2 separate regions of the Homo sapiens genome follow, and region 1 is linked to region 2. The links come from fine-mapping of genetic effects on gene expression. A gene starts in region 2. The other region holds a variant in brackets. All regions are shown on one strand. Distances are from middle to middle. Region 1 holds the start of LOC105375072 (a long non-coding RNA gene). Region 2 holds the start of CAPN11 (calpain 11).

Region 1 (8,328 bases), 27 kb before region 2:
ACCAAAAATATAAAAAATTAGCCGGGCATGGTGGCGGGTGCCTGTAATCCCAGCTACTCGGGAGGCTGAGGCAGGATAATCGCTTGAACCCGGGAGGTGGAGGTTGCAGTGAACCGAGATGGCGCCATTGCACTCCAGCCTGGGCAACAAGAGCAAAACTCCAACTCAAAAAAAAAAAAAAAAAAGGAAGCTCTCTATATACTAATAGAAAAATATCTCCAAGATATATATTTTAAAATTGCTTTTAAAAATAAGCTAGCTATTGGGCTAGGCACAGTTGCTCATGCCTGTAATCTCAATACTTCGGGAGGTCAAGGCAAGAAGATCATTTGAGCCCAGGAGTTCGAGACCAGCCTGGGCAACACAGTGAGACTGTCTTTACAAAAAATTAAAAAAAAAAAAAAGCTGGCCATGTTGGCGTGCACCCATAGTCCCAGCTACATGGCAGAGTGAGGCAGAAAGATCACCTGAGCCCAGGAGTTCAAGGCTGCAGTGAGCCATGATTGTACCACTGCACTGCAGCCTGGGCGACAGAGGGAGACCCTGTACCTAAACAAAACAAACAAAAAGCAACCACAAAAAAACAAAAGAAGCTAATGAGCTCATCCTGCTTTACTTTTTCTTCACTCAGCATCTTCTCAGGCTCTACAGCTGTGGCTGGGTGGCATCTAGTCTGCTGCTTCTGTTGCATGGCATTCCATGGTTTTCAAGCACATTTGGGACCCAATTTTCTCAGAGACCAGAGGATGAAGCTGCGAAGATATTCTGAGGGAGAAGAGAAGTGGGGTTGAGGCTGTTTCTCTGATGTAGCCTCATTCTTTGCAGTAAAAATGAAGGCTGTAGTGAGAGGTCTGGGGGAAATCAGGGCAGTGGGTGTGGAGAATGGCAGTCAGTCATCAGGAGAAGAAATCTAGCTTGCCACGTGGCCTCCATCGAGGTCAACCAGCATGAATCAGGAGGATGCAGGCAGCATGGTTTAGTGCCCATTCCCAGCAAAACTCAGCCACCTGGTTTTATGAGCAGAGGACTAAAAGGGACTAGAAAGTATGGGCTGCCTGCCTGTGGTTACAGGTCCCTTGGAGACAGCAAGGACATAGTGGGAATGGCCTCCCAGGGCACTAAGGCTGAGCTGGGATGGAGTTGCAGTGAAGTTGGATGGAAATGGAGCCTGAAGGGACTAGAAGAATGGTGTGCCTCATTTTCCAAATTTTAAATAACATTGTATATAGCCATTGCTAATAATATTTAATGCAAGCAAATGGTAAACACTAATGTCAAGGACTATTGTAAATCTAATATGCATCTTGCTTATTCAACTGTATGTCATAACCCTCATGCCATTTGTGTTATTTAGTTCAATGGCTTGATATTTTATCGTGTGTAACATCTAATGTGTATTTATTTATTTATTTTTGAGACAGAATCTCCCTCTGTTGCCCAGGCTGGAATGCAGTGGTTTGATCAGAGTTCTCTGCAGCCTTGAACTCCTGGGCTCAAGCAATTTTCCTGCCTCAGCCTCCCGAGTAACTAGGACTATAGGCATGACCCACACCACTCCTGGCTATAACATGTTCACAATTGAAAATTTGTTTTTTTTATTTTTTTACTATTATAGATAATATCAAAGTTTTTTTAAAAAAGAATGATATGCCTAAGTGCTTCACTTTCATTATCGCAGTTGTCCATACAACAGCCCTCTGAGATAGGAATTGTCACCTCTAATTGACAGATTCAAAAGGATACTCTGTTAGAAAGGTAAAATAATTTGCCCAAAGACACATAGCTCGTGAATCTTCACCTTAAGCCACTATGCAAATTGTTGGGAAAAGAAAATAACTTTTATTTGGTGAGGTGGCAGGTGCCTGTAATCCAGCTTCTTGGGAGACTGAGGCCTGGGAATCGCTTGAACCTGGGAGGCGGAGGTTGCAGTGAGCTGAGATCGCGCCACTGAACTCCAGCCTGGGCGACAGAGAGAGACTCTGTCTCAAAAAAATAAAAATAAATAAAATAAAAATAACTTTTATCTGAGGAATGCAAATCCTTTTAATTATCAGACCCAGAGAGACAGTAACATGACACACAATTGCACCCTATACCCTGCACTCCCCTTTAAGTTATGTATTCATCTCTTGAAACTGCTTGCTACTTCTACAGGTAGCTATAAATTATCCTAATAATGGGACACCAGACACTATAGCCAATAACTAATCAATGTTATTTCTGAAAACCGGTGAGAATTCCTAACAAATAACTTTGTATCATTCCACTCACTGTCCTCCTTTTTTACCTTTCTTTTCTTTTCTTTTTTGTTTTTTGAGACGGAGTCTCACGCTCTCACCCTGGCTGGAGTACAATGGCGCAATCTTGGCTCACTGCAACCTCCATCTCCCGGGTTCAAGCAATTCTCCTGCCTCAGCCTCCCAAGTAGCTGGGATTACAGGTGCCCACCACCACACCTGGCTAATTTTTTGTATTTTTAGTAGAGACGGGGTTTCGCCATGTTGGGCAGGTTAGAACTCCTGACCTCGTGATCGGCCTGCCTCGGCCTCCCAAGGTGCTGGGATTACAGGCGTGAGCCACTATGCCCAGCCCTTTTTTACCTTTAAAAATGCATTTTGGGCCGGGCACAGTGGCTCATGACTTTAATCTCAGCACTTTGGGAGGCTCGGGGGGGTGGGCGGTGGGGCAGATTACTTGAGGTCAGTAGTTTGAGGCTAACCTGGCCAACATGGTGAAACCCTGTGTCTACTAAAAATACAAAAATTAGCCATGCATGGTGATGTGCACCTGTAGTCCCAGCTACTCAGGAGGCTGAGGCAGGAGGATCACCTGAGCCCGGGAGGCAGAGGTTATAGTAAGCCAAAACTGTGCCACTGCACTCCAGCCGGGTGACAAAGAGAGGCCCTGACACACACACACACACACACACACACACACCCCAAAACAAAACAAAACAAAAACCTTTTTGTTTTTTGAGACAAGGCCTCGCTCCGTCACCCAGGCAGGAGTGCATTGGCATGATCACATTTCACTGCAGCCTCGACCTCCTGGACTCAAGTGATCCTCCCACTTCAGCTCCCCACACAGCTGGGACCACATGTGTGCGCCACCAGTCCTGGCTAACTTTTTCTTTTCTTTTTTTGAGATAGTCTCACTCTGTCACCCAGGCTGGAGTGCAGTGGCACAATCTCAGCTCACTGCAACCTCCGCCTCCCGGGTTCAAGCGATTCTTATGCCTCAGCCTCCCGAGTAGCTGTGACTACAGCCGTGTGCCACCACGCCTGGCTATTTTTTGTATTTTTAGTAGAGATGGGGTTTCACCATGTTGGCCAGGCTGGTCTTGAATTTCTGGCCTCAAGTGATCTGCCCACCTCAGCCTCACAAAGTGCTGGGGTTATAGGTGTGAGCCACTGTACCCAGCCTAAAAATCCACTTGTAACTGCTGCTAATCGGGATGTATATTCAGAATAATTTGAATCTATTCTCCAGGGTTACAATCCTTAAGTTTAGCCCAAATAAACTCTCTACTTATGTGAAGTTTGCTTCATTTTATGTTTACAGAGTGTTCGTGAGTAACCAGCTTTGTTACAAACCGGAAGGGATAGTCCTGATTTGAGAGTTTTCTGCTTCCTTTCCATCCTGGCTTGAAGTTGGCAGCATTTCACCCTAGGCCATGGAA[C/G]AAGAGGTGGGGTCAGCATCTTCCTAGGGTTCCCAGAACCAATCCGGACTGCCCGGGACCTCTCAGAGTCTCAAAGGACCTGCTAGGTTTTTGTTTTTAAAAGATGGAGTCCCCGTGTTGCCCAGGCTGGTCTCAAACTCCTCAGCCTCCCGAGTAGCTGGGATTACAGGCATGTGCCACCATGCCCAGCATGGACCTGTTAGCTTGAGGCTCTCACTGACCTCTCCCTGCTCTCTCTGGGGACTTTTGCTCATCACTCAGAGAAGCTCTGTGGAGAGCAGGTGGTGGCTGCCATCTCTTAGAGAGAGAGGGAGGACGACAAGTGGGAGAACAGTCTTTCAAAGAGGCTCCAAAGAGAGTGTGACCTATTCTTTCAGGCAGGACTGGAGACGGAGAGGAAGCAGGGAGGGCTGACAGGACAGGAAACGATTCCTCTGAAGGCGGCGTGGGGTGGTGATAATGGAGGGAAGGCGGCTTTATATCCAGGCAGACTAGCTTTAGTCTTTGAAGTCACAAAGAAGGCAGGGGCCAGGGCTGGTGCAGACAATCAGTCACCAGATTAAGGAAGATCAGAATCCCACCTGCCTCACTAAGCACACAAGGGCTGGGTTTAGTGCACGTGGAAGGAAGCTAGCGACCCCAGGAAGCTGCACAGGTACACAGAGACAGGAAGGGTTTAGCTTCATTGGGGATGACAGATCTCTAATCTAGGGGAAGTTGGGGGTGCTGTCTCTACCTGAGAGGCTGAGAAGCGCATGTGCTTGGGCTCCAGTGTCCCTGCCAGAAACCAGAAGGGGAGGCTGTGGAGGGCTCTGGAAGGACAGGAGGAGAAGTACAGTTTAGGGGCTGCTGTGAGTGGCCTGGGTGTTCTCACTACTGCAGGGGGCTGGGGCTGGAGTTGGGGTGTGGGCACCTGGGACAGAGACCCCGAGGTCAAAAACAGGTGGACCCAGAAATAAGTGTTTCTTCCATGCCTCCTGCAAGGACAGTAGCTTGACAAGCAACAAATTTCTTTTTTTTTTTTAATTTTCTTTTTAATTCTCAGCAAGGCAAGTTACTTCTATATAGAAGCGTGCGCCCTTATAGATGGAACAATGGTGAGCACACATTTGGACAAGGGAGGGGAAGGGGTTCTTATCCCTGATGCACGTGGCCCCTGCTGCTGTGTCGTTCCCCTATTGGCTAGGGTTAGACCGCACAGGCTAAACTAATTCTGATTGACTAATTTAAAGAGACTGACAGGGTGAGTGCTTTGGTGGGAGTCAGGGCAGAGCAGGTAGCAGGTGATTGGAATAAATTAGGGTGGAGCAGGTGATCGGAATGAGTCAGGGTGGAATAGGTAATTGAAAAGGTTGCTTTACGAGGAAGTGAAGTTTAAAAATAGAAGGCAAAGAATTGAACATACTGACATATTAATTCTTTGAAAAGAAATTTAGAACTCATATCTAACAATCCCTCCCCTTGTATTTCCTTACAGCTTTCTTTTCATACTTTTTTTTTTTTTAACATGTCTTGACTTAGTTGCTTTGCTTGATTTTCTAAAAGAAGAAGCTTCTCTGGATAAGGTGGAGGATAGTTAAGGGAGGTTTTAGTAAGTGGACAGGCAACAAATTTCTAACAATAATAATAATGATTTGAATCTGAACACCTTTAAGGCAGGAACGAGTTCACCTATTGCCACAGTCCTCAGCCTTCCCAGTCCCACACGAGGAGGATTTGTTCATTTATTTATTTAAATTGTTTTTGAGACAGAGTCTTGCTCTGTCACCCAGGCTGGAGTGAAGTGGTATGATCTTGTCTCACTGCAACCTCCACCCCCCAGGTTCAAGCAGTTCTCCTGCCTCAGCCTCCCAAGTAGCTGGGATTATAGGCGCGTGCCACTACGGCCAGCTAAGTTTTGTATTTTTAGCAGAGACGGAGTTTTGCCATGTTGGCCAGGGTGGTCTCAAACTCCTGACCTCAGGTGATCCACCTGCGTTGGCCTCCCAGAGTGCTGGGATTACAGGCGTGAGCCACCGCGCCCGGCAGTTCGTTCATTTATGTGACCTGCTGGCTGCAGGTGTCAGATTTTTAACCTTCGAGGCTCCTGCAGTGCCACCTTTGGGGACCCCAGTTTGAAGCAGCAGATGAGAGTCCTGGAGCCCTGGCTCAGCCCCCGTAGAAGCGCTCCACCATAGGGCACACCACACAGTTCTTCACAGGGAGGGACTTGTGTGCTTAGCATCTGGCACTGCCCATAAACGCCAACTATGGCCTCTAGTTATTGTGACAACTGCACATTTCTATATGCTCCCTATCACCCTTGGCTGAGAGCTACCCAATCCTTTGGTCCTGGGTAAGTGACTTCCACCCTTGCCAGTCTTTTCTTGGCATAAAAACACAGAGACATGGAAGCCAATGGCATGTGCTATTTATTAGAATAGTATCCACAGATGGGGAGGAAAACAGAGGCTGTGCCAGGATGGGTGGTCAGCAGGTAGGTGTGAGCAGGACAGCAAGCATGGAGGGTAAGAAACGGGCTACAAGTCCCTTCCCTATTCTTGGCCTCCCCAGCCAGGGGGACCCTGGGGAAGCATCAACTACTCTTTAGTAAAATATACTCTGAGAGAGCGATGGTGGGGGAAAGCCAGCCATCAGAAGCCGGGTTGGGGAAAAAAGAGAAAGCCTCTGAGCTGGGGGAGTGGGCACGGAGGTCCCACTGCTGCAGTAAACACGGCACCTGGGACCCGGGCACTGCCACCTGGAGCCCATTTCATCAGCAGAGACCGGAGAGCTGAGGGCTACAAGAAGCACCCCACCCTCCTGGGCTAGAACCTCGCTGCTGCTGCTGCTGGTAGAGATGACCAGGCTCCTACAGCGCCTCTATCCCCACATGGTCATCTGCAGCCACTGTGGAGACAGGAAGCAGATCCCAGGGTGGGAAGAGACGGGGGCAGGATGCTGGCCCGGGGACATCAGAGCTGGGTGGGGGTGGGGTTGAGGGGCAGGCAGGTGCAATCCTGCAGATTCCTTCCCACCCTTCTCCAAGTACCTGTTCCAGGCTCAAGCAAATATGGCCAGTATTCTTGGGGTCCATGGTTAGAAAGAATGCTGCGTTACAGAGGAAGCGGGGGAGAGGGGCTGAATGCTAAGTCAGTGTTCCGAAAGAACCACTCCCAACTAGGTAGGAAGGGGCGACACCAGGTGTTCCTGGCTGTTCCCCACATAAATCCCCTAGCCAAGTGGGGAATTAATGATAGCAACTCACATAGCCTCACCAGGAGCCAGGCCCAGTTCTGATTGCCTTCCATAGACTAACTGGTTTAACCTGCACCTCAGTCCTTTGAGGGCAGTACTATTATTATCCACATTCTAAAGAGGAGGGAATGGAGGCACAGAAAGATTAAGTGACTTGCTCAAGTCACCTCTGCCAGCAAGTGGCGGAGCTGGGCTTTGAATCCATTTCATGTGTGCCTTGTAAGGGGGAGGGGATCTGGAGCAGCACCCATCAGGGTGGGTGTTTGGGAAAGGGCCCGCGGCCCCTGGCCTAGGCTGGGGAGTGGGTAGATGCCTAACTCACTGAACATGGTCTTTAGCCTCAGGAAACAGCTGATGAAGCTGTCAAAGTCTATGATCAGGTCATCATCTGCATACCTGGCCACCAGGACCTGCATTACCTTGTTGTTCAGCTTGATGCCTGAGAGAGGGAGAGAGAAGTGGGGAGGGGAAAAGTCTGGGCCTCTGGACACTGCCATCCTCTTCCCTGCCCCAAGGCCCACTCCTGACCCTTGGCCACCTGCTTTCTCAATAACCAGGCGCATCTCATAGGAGTTCAAGGTGCCTGAATGGTCCTGGTCACACTCTCTGAAGATGTCCTGAAGAGACAGACAGATATGGTAGGGCCACATGCATGGCATGGTGGTTGAAATAATGAAATACTGAGGCCGGGCGCGGTGGCTCATGCCTGTAATCCCAGCACTTTGAAAGGCCGAGGCAGGCGGATCATCTGAGGTCAGGAGTTTGAGACCAGCCTGGCCAACATGACGAAACCCCGTCTCTAATAAAACTACAAAAATTAGCTGGGTGTGGTGGTGCATGCCTGTAATCCCAGCTAGTCAGGAGGCTGAGGCAGGAGGCGGAGGTTACAGTAAGCAGAGATCGCACCACTGCACTCCAGCCTGGGCAACAGAGTGAGATTCCGTCTCAAAAAAAAGAAAAAGAAATACTTTAGGACAGTTGGCTCACAGCAGTGGCCTAAGACCCCATGCCCCCCTCCAACCCTGGCCCACTCCTGATATTCCTATCATCTGGTGACCTAAGGGTTAATTCCAAGCATGGGTTGTCGGGGGCACTGGTGCCCTGCCCAGCGCTCTTTGTGTGCATCCTTCATGACTAGATGATACCTGAGCTATACTTGTTATAAAATATTTTGACTGGGTAATATGCCACACTCCAACAGACCCTTTTCATGTGTGTGTGTGGTGTGGTTGTGTCTGTATGTGAGTGTGTGTGTGTGTGTGTGTGTGTGTGGTGTGGTTGTGTCTGTATGTGTGTGTGTGTGTGGTGTGGTTGTGTCTGTATGTGAGTGTGTATGTGTGTGTGTGAGTGTGGTGTGGTTGTGTCTGTATGTGAGTGTGTATGTGTGTGTGAGTGTGGTGTGGTTGTGTCTG
Region 2 (8,328 bases):
ATGAGAAGATATTAGGAATCCTGCCTCAGTTATGAGTAGTGAGCACTTATATAGCATTTCTAAAAATAATAATAGTTAGCAGCGTTTGAGGGCTCACTACATGTCTGGCACTATTCTAAACACCCGATGTGCATTAGCTGATTGAATCATCCCAACAACCCCACTGGTTAGGCTTACTCTTATAACTTCCCTGCTATAGACAGAGAAACTGAGGCAGAGAGAGGCTGAAATTCCTCAGACTCGGTGGGCATTAGAGTCAGGGCAGGCTGCTCTATGCTCTCAGCCATCAGGCTCGCTGCCTTGCTGGGAGGTCGCCATGGTGAGGAGCCATGGCTGTGCTGGAGAGGGATGAGTGAGTCAACTGGCCTTGGTGCGGCCCCTTCGTCCATTGTACTGCAACTTGTGTGTGGTCTTTGTGAAGTCACTTCCCCTGTGTGGAGCAGCTGACAGGGGGTGTTGAGGATGGATAAAGGTGTTGGAAAAGGGGTGGCTTGTCCCTTTTTAGCAGAGCTAATGCCCTGGGCTGCACTGGAGCCAGAGAATTAGCTGTGTGACCTTGGGCAAGTTGTTTGACCTCCCTGAGCCTTGGTTTCCTCACCTGTGTATAGAGGCTGCTGCATTCTACCTGCGAGGGTGTTTCAGGATTGAAGAATGCAACGTGTGAAAAAGACTGGAGTTTAGCAGGTGCTCAGAAAACGTTACTCACCTTCTCCCCACTGACCTAGTTGGTCAACTGGTATTTGTTGAGCTCCTTCTAGGATCACATGGCCCATGCTCTGTGTCACATATGTGTCCCTCCATCATAGGATTTAATGATACTAGTGATATTACTCCAATATTGGAGTCATGTGTGTGCTTGTCTGTCTTTGCCACTGGTTTGAGCTCCTGAGAGCAAACCCTAACTCGTGTTAGGCATGTTTTATGGAGAATTTATTCTGGGCTGGTACTGAGGGGTCAAAGTGAATGCACCCCCAACATGGAGCGTGGAGAAGACCCTCCCATGCGATTCCTCCCCCAGGTTCAGCTCCATGGGCCGCAAAGACAGGAGAAAGTGCCATGAAAAGGGGCCACCAGGTTGATGGGATCATCAGGGAGGTTCTGTGGGGGAATGACTATCCCCCTTTCCCTATTCTAAGCACATCCCATTCCCCTGAGGGTGGGGTGCACTTTGACGTCCTGGTTCTGGAAGCATCAGGGCTGGGAAGCAGGGAAGAGGGTGGGTAGAGCCAGAGTCTGGGAGTTCTCCTCGCTCTTTTCTCCCTCCATTTTCCTCAAACCCTGTCTCTTCTAACCCAAGCCCTCTGGGATTATCTTAGAAATGGTAATGGAAGCTCCCTCACCCCCTCGGGCTATGATTACAGGTGTGTGTGTGTGTGTGTGTGTGTGTGTGTGTGTGTGTGTGTCTTTATTCAAAGAGACTGTGAGGGGGGCTGCGGGGGCGGGGTTAAACAGTGGAGCCCCTTTCAGATGAAGAGGGTTCCGAGGGAAGGGTGGAAAGCAGTCCTGAGAGGGGAGAGCTGAACACCTTCTGTTTCAGCCCCTGATCCCTATCTGTGAAGCTGGCGGATCAGGATGACTATTCCCATCTGAGCTGGGTGGAAGCCAGGGCCTCCACAGAGAGATTGAGTCAGAAGTTCTCAACCCGGGGTGATTACGGCCCCCAGGGAACAGGTGGCAACGTCTAGAGGCAGTGTTGGTTGTCATAACTGGGGCAGGTCTCAGGGGAGCTACTGGCATCTAGTAAGTAGAGGCCAGGGATGCTGCTGGGCGCCCCTCAGTGTAGAGGAAAGTCTCCACAATAAAGAATTTTCCAGTTCAAAATGTCAAGAGAGCTGGGGTTGACAAACCTGGGTTGAGCGAATCATCTAAGGTCATTCACACGATAAGGCAAACCACTCCATGCCCTTGCACCGTGCAGTCACTCCAGGCAGCCTCTACCCTGGCTGCTCCGAGGACTGAGGGTGTTGAGCTCTCCTGGGGGCCTGGAAGGACCAGGGAAGATGCTGTTGTTTGAGAAGACTGAAAGAACATCAGAGGGCAGGCCAAGGCAATTCAGGTTCCATCTTAACTCCCTTGTCTCATTTCCCCAGAGCCCTCTGTCCCCTAGTCACCATCCAGCCCAACAAGTCATTTCTCACTGTCTGGCCCCCAAACCCTGCTTCGAAGCTGCATACCCAGTCCCCAGGGTGTGAGGTCATTACTCAGCTCTGACTTGCAGGAAGGACTGACACACCTATCCACACCACCACAGTTGTCATGGAAAATGTCTTTAAGTTGGGCACTGTGGCTCACGCCTGTAATCCCAGCACTTTGAGAGGCTGAGGTGGGCGGATCACCTGAAGTCAGGAGTTCAAGACCCGCCTGGCCAACATGGTGAAACCCCGTCTCTACTAAGAACACAAAAATGAGTTGGGTGTGGTAGCACATGCCTGTAGTCCCAGCTATTCAGGAGGCTGAGGCAGGAGAATCGCTTGAACCCGGGAGGTGGAGGTTGCAGTGAGCCAAGGTTGGGCCACTGCACTCCAGCCTGGGCAATAGAGTGAGACTCCACCTCAAAACAAACAAACAAACAAAAACACCAAAAAAAAAAAAAACCCAAAAGAAAATATCCCCTTAGAGAGGGCAAAAGATCCAAGCTGTCACATGGGCTAGGAGCGTGAGAAGGCTGAGACAGACAGACCAAGGCTGCCTGTGGGAAGCACAGACAGATGGCCAGAGCAACACAGTAGCTCCCCTTAACCCTAGGGGTACGTTCCAACACCCCCAGTGGACACCTGAAACTGCGGGTGGTACCAAACCCTGTATATATCAATACTATGTCTTTCCTTTATGTACATACCTATGATAAAGTTTAGTTTATAAATTAGGCACAGTAAGCAGTTAACCATAATAAGTAATAAAATATAACAAATACAACAATACAATAACAGTAATGTGAATGTGGTCTCTCTGTCTCAAAATATCCTGATGTTTTCAGACTGCAGTTGACAGCGGGTAACTGAAACTGCGTGGAAAGCAGGGGCTGCTGCATGTTAAAAGGCATGAATGGACAGGAAGCTTTCTGCTGCAGCTGCACATCCTGTCTCCTCCATCAGACTGAGAACCTACAGATCATTTTGTTGTTGTTGTTGTTGTTGTTTTTTGAGGTTTTTTTTGAGGCGGAGTCTCACTCTGTCGCCCAGGCTGGAGTGCAGTGGAGCGATCTTGGCTCACTGCAAGCTCCACCTTCTGGGTTCACGCTATTCTCCTGCCTCAGCCTCCCGAGTAGCTGGGACTACAGGCGCCCGCCACCACGCCTGGCTTATTTTTTGTATTTTTAGTAGAGACAGGGTTTCACCGCGTTAGCCAAGATGGTCCCGATCTCCTGACTTCGTGATCTGCCCGCCACGGCCTCCCAAAGTGCTGGGATTACAGGCGTGAGCCACTGCGCCCGGCCAGATCGTTTTTAACTAAATCAGTTTTATTTTATTGACAAAAAAAGTATATATCTGTTGTATACGACATGGTGTTTTGAAATATGTATTCACTGTGGAATGGCTCAGTTGAGCTAATTAATATCTGCATTACTGCACATACTTGTTATTTGTTTGTGGTGAGAACACTTAAAATCTACTGTCAGTGATTTTCTTTTTTTTTTGAGATGGAGTCTCGCTGTGTCGCCCAGGCTTGGGGTGCGGTGGCACGATCTCGGCTCACTGCAACCTCCACTTGCTGGGTTCAAGAGATTCTCCTGCCTCAGCCTCCCGAGTAGCTGGGATTACAGGCGCCCGCCACCACGCATGGCTAATTTTTGTATTTTAGTAGAGACACGGTTTCACTATGTTGGCCAGGCTGGTCTCGAACTCCTGACCTCAGATGATCCACCTGCCTTGGCCTCCCAGAGTGCTAGGATTACAGGCGTGAACCACTGTGCCTGGCCTCTCTCAGTGATTTTCTAAATGCAATACATTGTTATTAGGGGACTATAGATTTAAGGACAGTTTGATTTCCGGCACTGGGAAAAAACTAAGATGTTGTGTCAGGGAACTTTAAAAAAAAATAAATACTAATAAGTAATAATAATAAATAAATAAATTATATTTTGAGATGAGGTCTTGCTATGCTGACCAGGCTGGTCTTGAACTCCTGGGCTCAGGGCACTTCTGAAGAACAAGGACTGGGTTTGGGGTCACCAGCTAGGCCTAAACTTCCTAGGGTCAGGTAAACAGGGAGGGCCTGAGAAGCTGGGAGGCTGGGTCTAGGGGCCCATGGTCTCACGGTGCCCCAGGCTGAGGGTGAGGTACAGGGCTGACCTTCTGCTGGCCAAGGCTGGCTGCCCTCTGTGCACCCTAGCCCCACAGGAACAACTCAGTTCTGCCCAGCCCTCCCCTTCCCCCCAGCCCACTCTCCCCCATCTCCTGGAGTCTGGTCCCAGGCTTGCCTCAGGTAGTCCTGCCCCTGCCACCCTGAGGATCTCATCTTCCTGGGCTGAGGGACCTGCTTTTCTAGGCTTAGGAGAGGTTCTCTCTGTTCCCTAAAGTTTTCTTCTCTACGTGGGCTTTTTCACACAAACCCTTTTCCCCAGCAGCCATGACAGTGGGATGGCCGGCCCCTCTCCTCTCCCCAACTCCAACTGTCAGTGGAGAGGAGAAAGAGTTCCTGCCCGGCCTACCACCCAGTCTGACCACCAGTGGCCTATCCTTCCCCAAACAGTCTGAGAACGAGGCCCAGGTCCTGTCCTTAGGGAGCATCCAGTCTGATGGAAGAGTCACTCTCTGTACCCTCAAGGGGCATCCAGTCTGATGGAAGAGTCACTCTCTGTACCCTCAAGGGGCACCCAGTCTGATGCGGGACACAGCTCCTCCCCTGGGGGGAGGCTCTAGCCTGCAGGAGGTACAGGAGTGGGGCAAGGCCCCATGAGTGCCTACCTGGGGAGTACAGCATGCTGGTGGCTAGCTCGGTGCTTGACAGTTGAAGGTTCTGGTGGGAGGGGGAGAAGAGACCCTCCCCCCAGAACTCTCTCATTGCAGTGGGATTCCTAGGTCAGCAGCCGGTTTAACAGCTGCCTTCCCTTTTCTCCTTCTCAGTAACCCAGCCCCTTACCCAGCTGAGGGCTACCCGCTTTAGGGACAGATGACCCAGCACCCCTGCCTTGCACAGCCTCCACCAGCCTGGCTGTCCTCACTGTATCACGGTCATCCCATCAGGGTAGGTCCCAGTCCCTTTTTTTCAGCCCAAGGTTTCCAGGAAGGGGTTGTCCCTGACACACCAACCTGACCTTTACATCCAGAAAGCCTTCTCATTCCCAAAAGCCCCTTTCTCACTGACATGGCATTTTTCCTGTGTTGCTGTCTTCACATGGCACCCTCCTCTGTGTCTCTTCTTCTTATAAGGACACCAGTCATATGGGGCTAGGGTCCCATGCATTTCAGTATGACCTCATCTTAATTGAACGAATTACATCTGCAACCACCCTGTTTCCAAATGAGGTCACATTCTGAAGTACTGGGGGCCAGGACTTCAACATGCCTTTTTGGGGGACACGATTCCACCTGCAACACTCTCCTTGCCTAGCCCCAGTCTGGCAAGGTTAGGCCACTGGTCTGACCACATGTCCTGCCTCTGCACTGGAAAGTGGGAATGCTTTGAGCTAAGAACTCTGCTCCAGAGTGCAGTCTTCTCTGGAGTGTATGATGGCTGAGGACAGGGACTGTCAAGGTCATCCCAGTGCCCCTCAGCCCTGCCTGGTGCTAATCAGGCACAGAACAGGTGTGAGAGCACCCAATGGGATCAGAGAACCTTGTTCCAAGCTCTGAAACAGGAGCTGACCTTGGGCGAGCCCTCCCCCTTTCTCCTTTCTGGGACTCAATCTCCTCATCTACGAGAATATTAATTATGGTTTGTTATTATGTGCCAAACACTGGGCTAAGAACTTCCTACTTATTTAATCCTTAAAACAGCCAGAGGCCATGACATTGCTATTCCCATTTTATAGATGAGGAAAGTGAGGTCTAGAGGTATGATGCAACTTGCCCAGGGTCACACAGCTGTTAAGCGGTCGAGCCAGGATTTAAACTAATAACTTCAGATTTTTTTTTTTTTTTTTTTTTTTGAGATGGAGTCTCGCTCTTTTGCCCAGGCTGGAGTGAAGTGGTGCAATCTCAGCTCACTGCAACCTCTGCCCCCCGGGTTCAAGCGATTCTCCTGCCTCAGCCTCTCAAGTAGCTGGGATTACAGGTGCCCACCACCATGCCCAGCTAATTTTTGTATTTTTAGTAGAGACGGGGTTTCGCCATGTTGGGCAGGCTGGTCTCGAACTCCTGACCTCAGGTGATCACTCGCTTCGGCCTCCCAAAGCGCTAGGATTATAGGCATAAGCCACCGTGCCCGGCCATAACTTTAGCTCTTATCCGTATCTTCTGCTGCCCCCAGCTGTGAAAGGAGGAAGTGGTCTTTGGGGATCCTGTGGTCTCCCCTGCCCACTCCTGATTCCACTATTGCACCTCTTGGATGCCTCTAATGTGATCTGCCTGGACATGAACTCTGTGACGAGGTGCCAGGGGTAGGGTGCAGGCAGGCACGGGTGTTCCTCTCTATTACAGCCTCCCACCCTGGGGGAGGGCTGTCCTCAGGACTCTTGCTCAGTGTGCTGCTTGGGCATTATCTGGAGTTTCACATTTGGAAATGCTGGAACCTGGCTTTGAACTTCAGGCCCTGCAGGAAAGGGAAGGCATGCTGGGCAGATGAGGAATGAGAGGGTCTCGGCTAACCAGAGGTGGGGGCTGAGGTCTGTCCAGGCCATGCTTTGCAGACAAGGGGGCTTGCCAGGCAAATGGCGGTGGTGTGCCTGCCCATCCATACGGAAAACAGGCTTCGGGAGCACCGAGAAGCCTTCACACAACCAAGGTGCTCCTTTCAAAGCCATGCCAATATTTGTCCAACCACCAGCAGGCACTCCCTTGGCCCCAAGACTTTGGGGACTCTACCTGGGAGCTCATGTTTCACAACTGCAGATCTGACATACATATGCAGGCTGAGGCCAGGACCAAGGCCTCAACTTTCACCTCCACTGTCACTGGCCCATCCTCCACCCACAGCCCGCCCATAAACACTGACCCTCCAAGCTGTGTTTGCCGCAGCTCCCTGCAGCCTGGGGCTGGACCTTGGGCGCTCTTTGCTCCTGCTCCTTGCTGGCGCCTGGGCAATCTTTATCAGGCTTGCTGTGTTTGCTGTTCCTGCTGTTGGTGGTTCCTGTTGACTTTTGTGGAACCTGGTTCTCCTCCTCCTCTGAGGTCTCTTTTCTTCCCTCTAAGAGTTCCTTTTTCTTCCTTTTCTTCAGGGTTGCAAAGTGATTTAGTGACAGAATAAGGACTGGAATGCAGGCCTCCTACAGTACATGCAGTACATGCTGTGTGTGCATGTGTGTGGGTGTGCACCACATGGCTCTGTGGGCCTTTGCAGGGTGGGCTACAGCAGTCACAGGACCTTTTTTCGAGGTGATTTTTTTTTGTTTTTTTTTGAGACAGGGTCTTGCCCTGTCGCCCAGGCTGGAGTGCAGTGGCATGATCTCAGCTCACTGCAGCCTCCACCTCCCAGGTTCAAGTGATTCTCATGCCTCAGCCTCCCAAGTAGCTGGGATTACAGGGGTGCACCACCATGCCCAGCTAATTTCTGTATTTTTTGTAGAGATGGGGTTTCATCATGTTGGCCAGGCTGGTCTCGAACTCCTGAACTCAAGTGATCCACCCACCTTGGCCTCCCAAAGTACTGGGATTACAGGCGTGAGCCACCGCGCCTGGCGAGAAGGTGAATTTGAGCTGGGTCTTGGAGAATGGGTAAGATTTGACTGGAGGGTGGGAGGGGGCTTCTCATTGAGGAGATCAGGCCCTCCTGGGGAAGGGACAGATGGGCTGGCGCCAGGCTTACTTTGAGGTGCTCAGAAGGGCCTTCGTCCTGGCCCAGCATGGACCCTGTGGCTTTGCACGACCTTTTCTCCCTGAATCTCTGTCCCATGTGTGTTGCTCAGGGACTCAGGGGAATGATCAGAGTGGGCGAGGCTGGTATGGTGGCCACCTGGGCACAGGGGCCCTTCCTGCCTCTGAGATATCCCTTAAGTCTCTCCCCAGCCCCACTCTCTCCTCTCAGTGACACAGAAATGAGACTCTGAACAAGTCCCTTGCCCAGCGTCATGCAGGGACCTCAAAGAGGCCCTCCAGATAGGAGGGTGGGGACCCGGCCCAGGTGCCCAGGGCAGCACAAGTCAGACACCTGCCTCAGAGCTTTTCTTTGTTTTTATTTTAAAGGAAAAAAACAAAAAAGAACAAAAAAACCAAAAAAAAAACAGTGCAA

The links.
Region 1: its variant is fine-mapped to the expression of CAPN11 in esophagus muscle (GTEx, PIP 0.96).

Annotation. Positions count from the first base shown.
Region 1 is chr6:44,182,146-44,190,473 of GRCh38, reverse strand. CAPN11 (calpain 11) reads right to left here. Exons shown (of 23, transcript NM_007058.4): 20 at 7,455-7,533; 21 at 7,239-7,355; 22 at 6,711-6,769; 23 at 6,073-6,568. The coding sequence ends at 6,542. LOC105375072 (a long non-coding RNA gene) reads right to left here and starts at 4,491. Exons shown (of 3, transcript XR_926835.2): 1 at 4,416-4,491; 2 at 3,594-3,666; 3 at 533-765. The variant C/G (reference allele first, on the strand shown) is at 3,680.
Region 2 is chr6:44,155,444-44,163,771 of GRCh38, reverse strand. It overlaps CAPN11 (calpain 11), which reads right to left and starts at 4,952. Exons shown (of 23, transcript NM_007058.4): 1 at 4,908-4,952. The coding sequence starts at 4,923. It overlaps TMEM63B (transmembrane protein 63B), which reads right to left. Exons shown (of 24, transcript NM_018426.3): 24 at 8,253-8,328. It overlaps LOC107986599 (a long non-coding RNA gene), which reads left to right and starts at 5,169. Exons shown (of 3, transcript XR_002956350.2): 1 at 5,169-5,187. RefSeq lists a silencer at 2,133-2,222 and an enhancer at 3,606-3,775.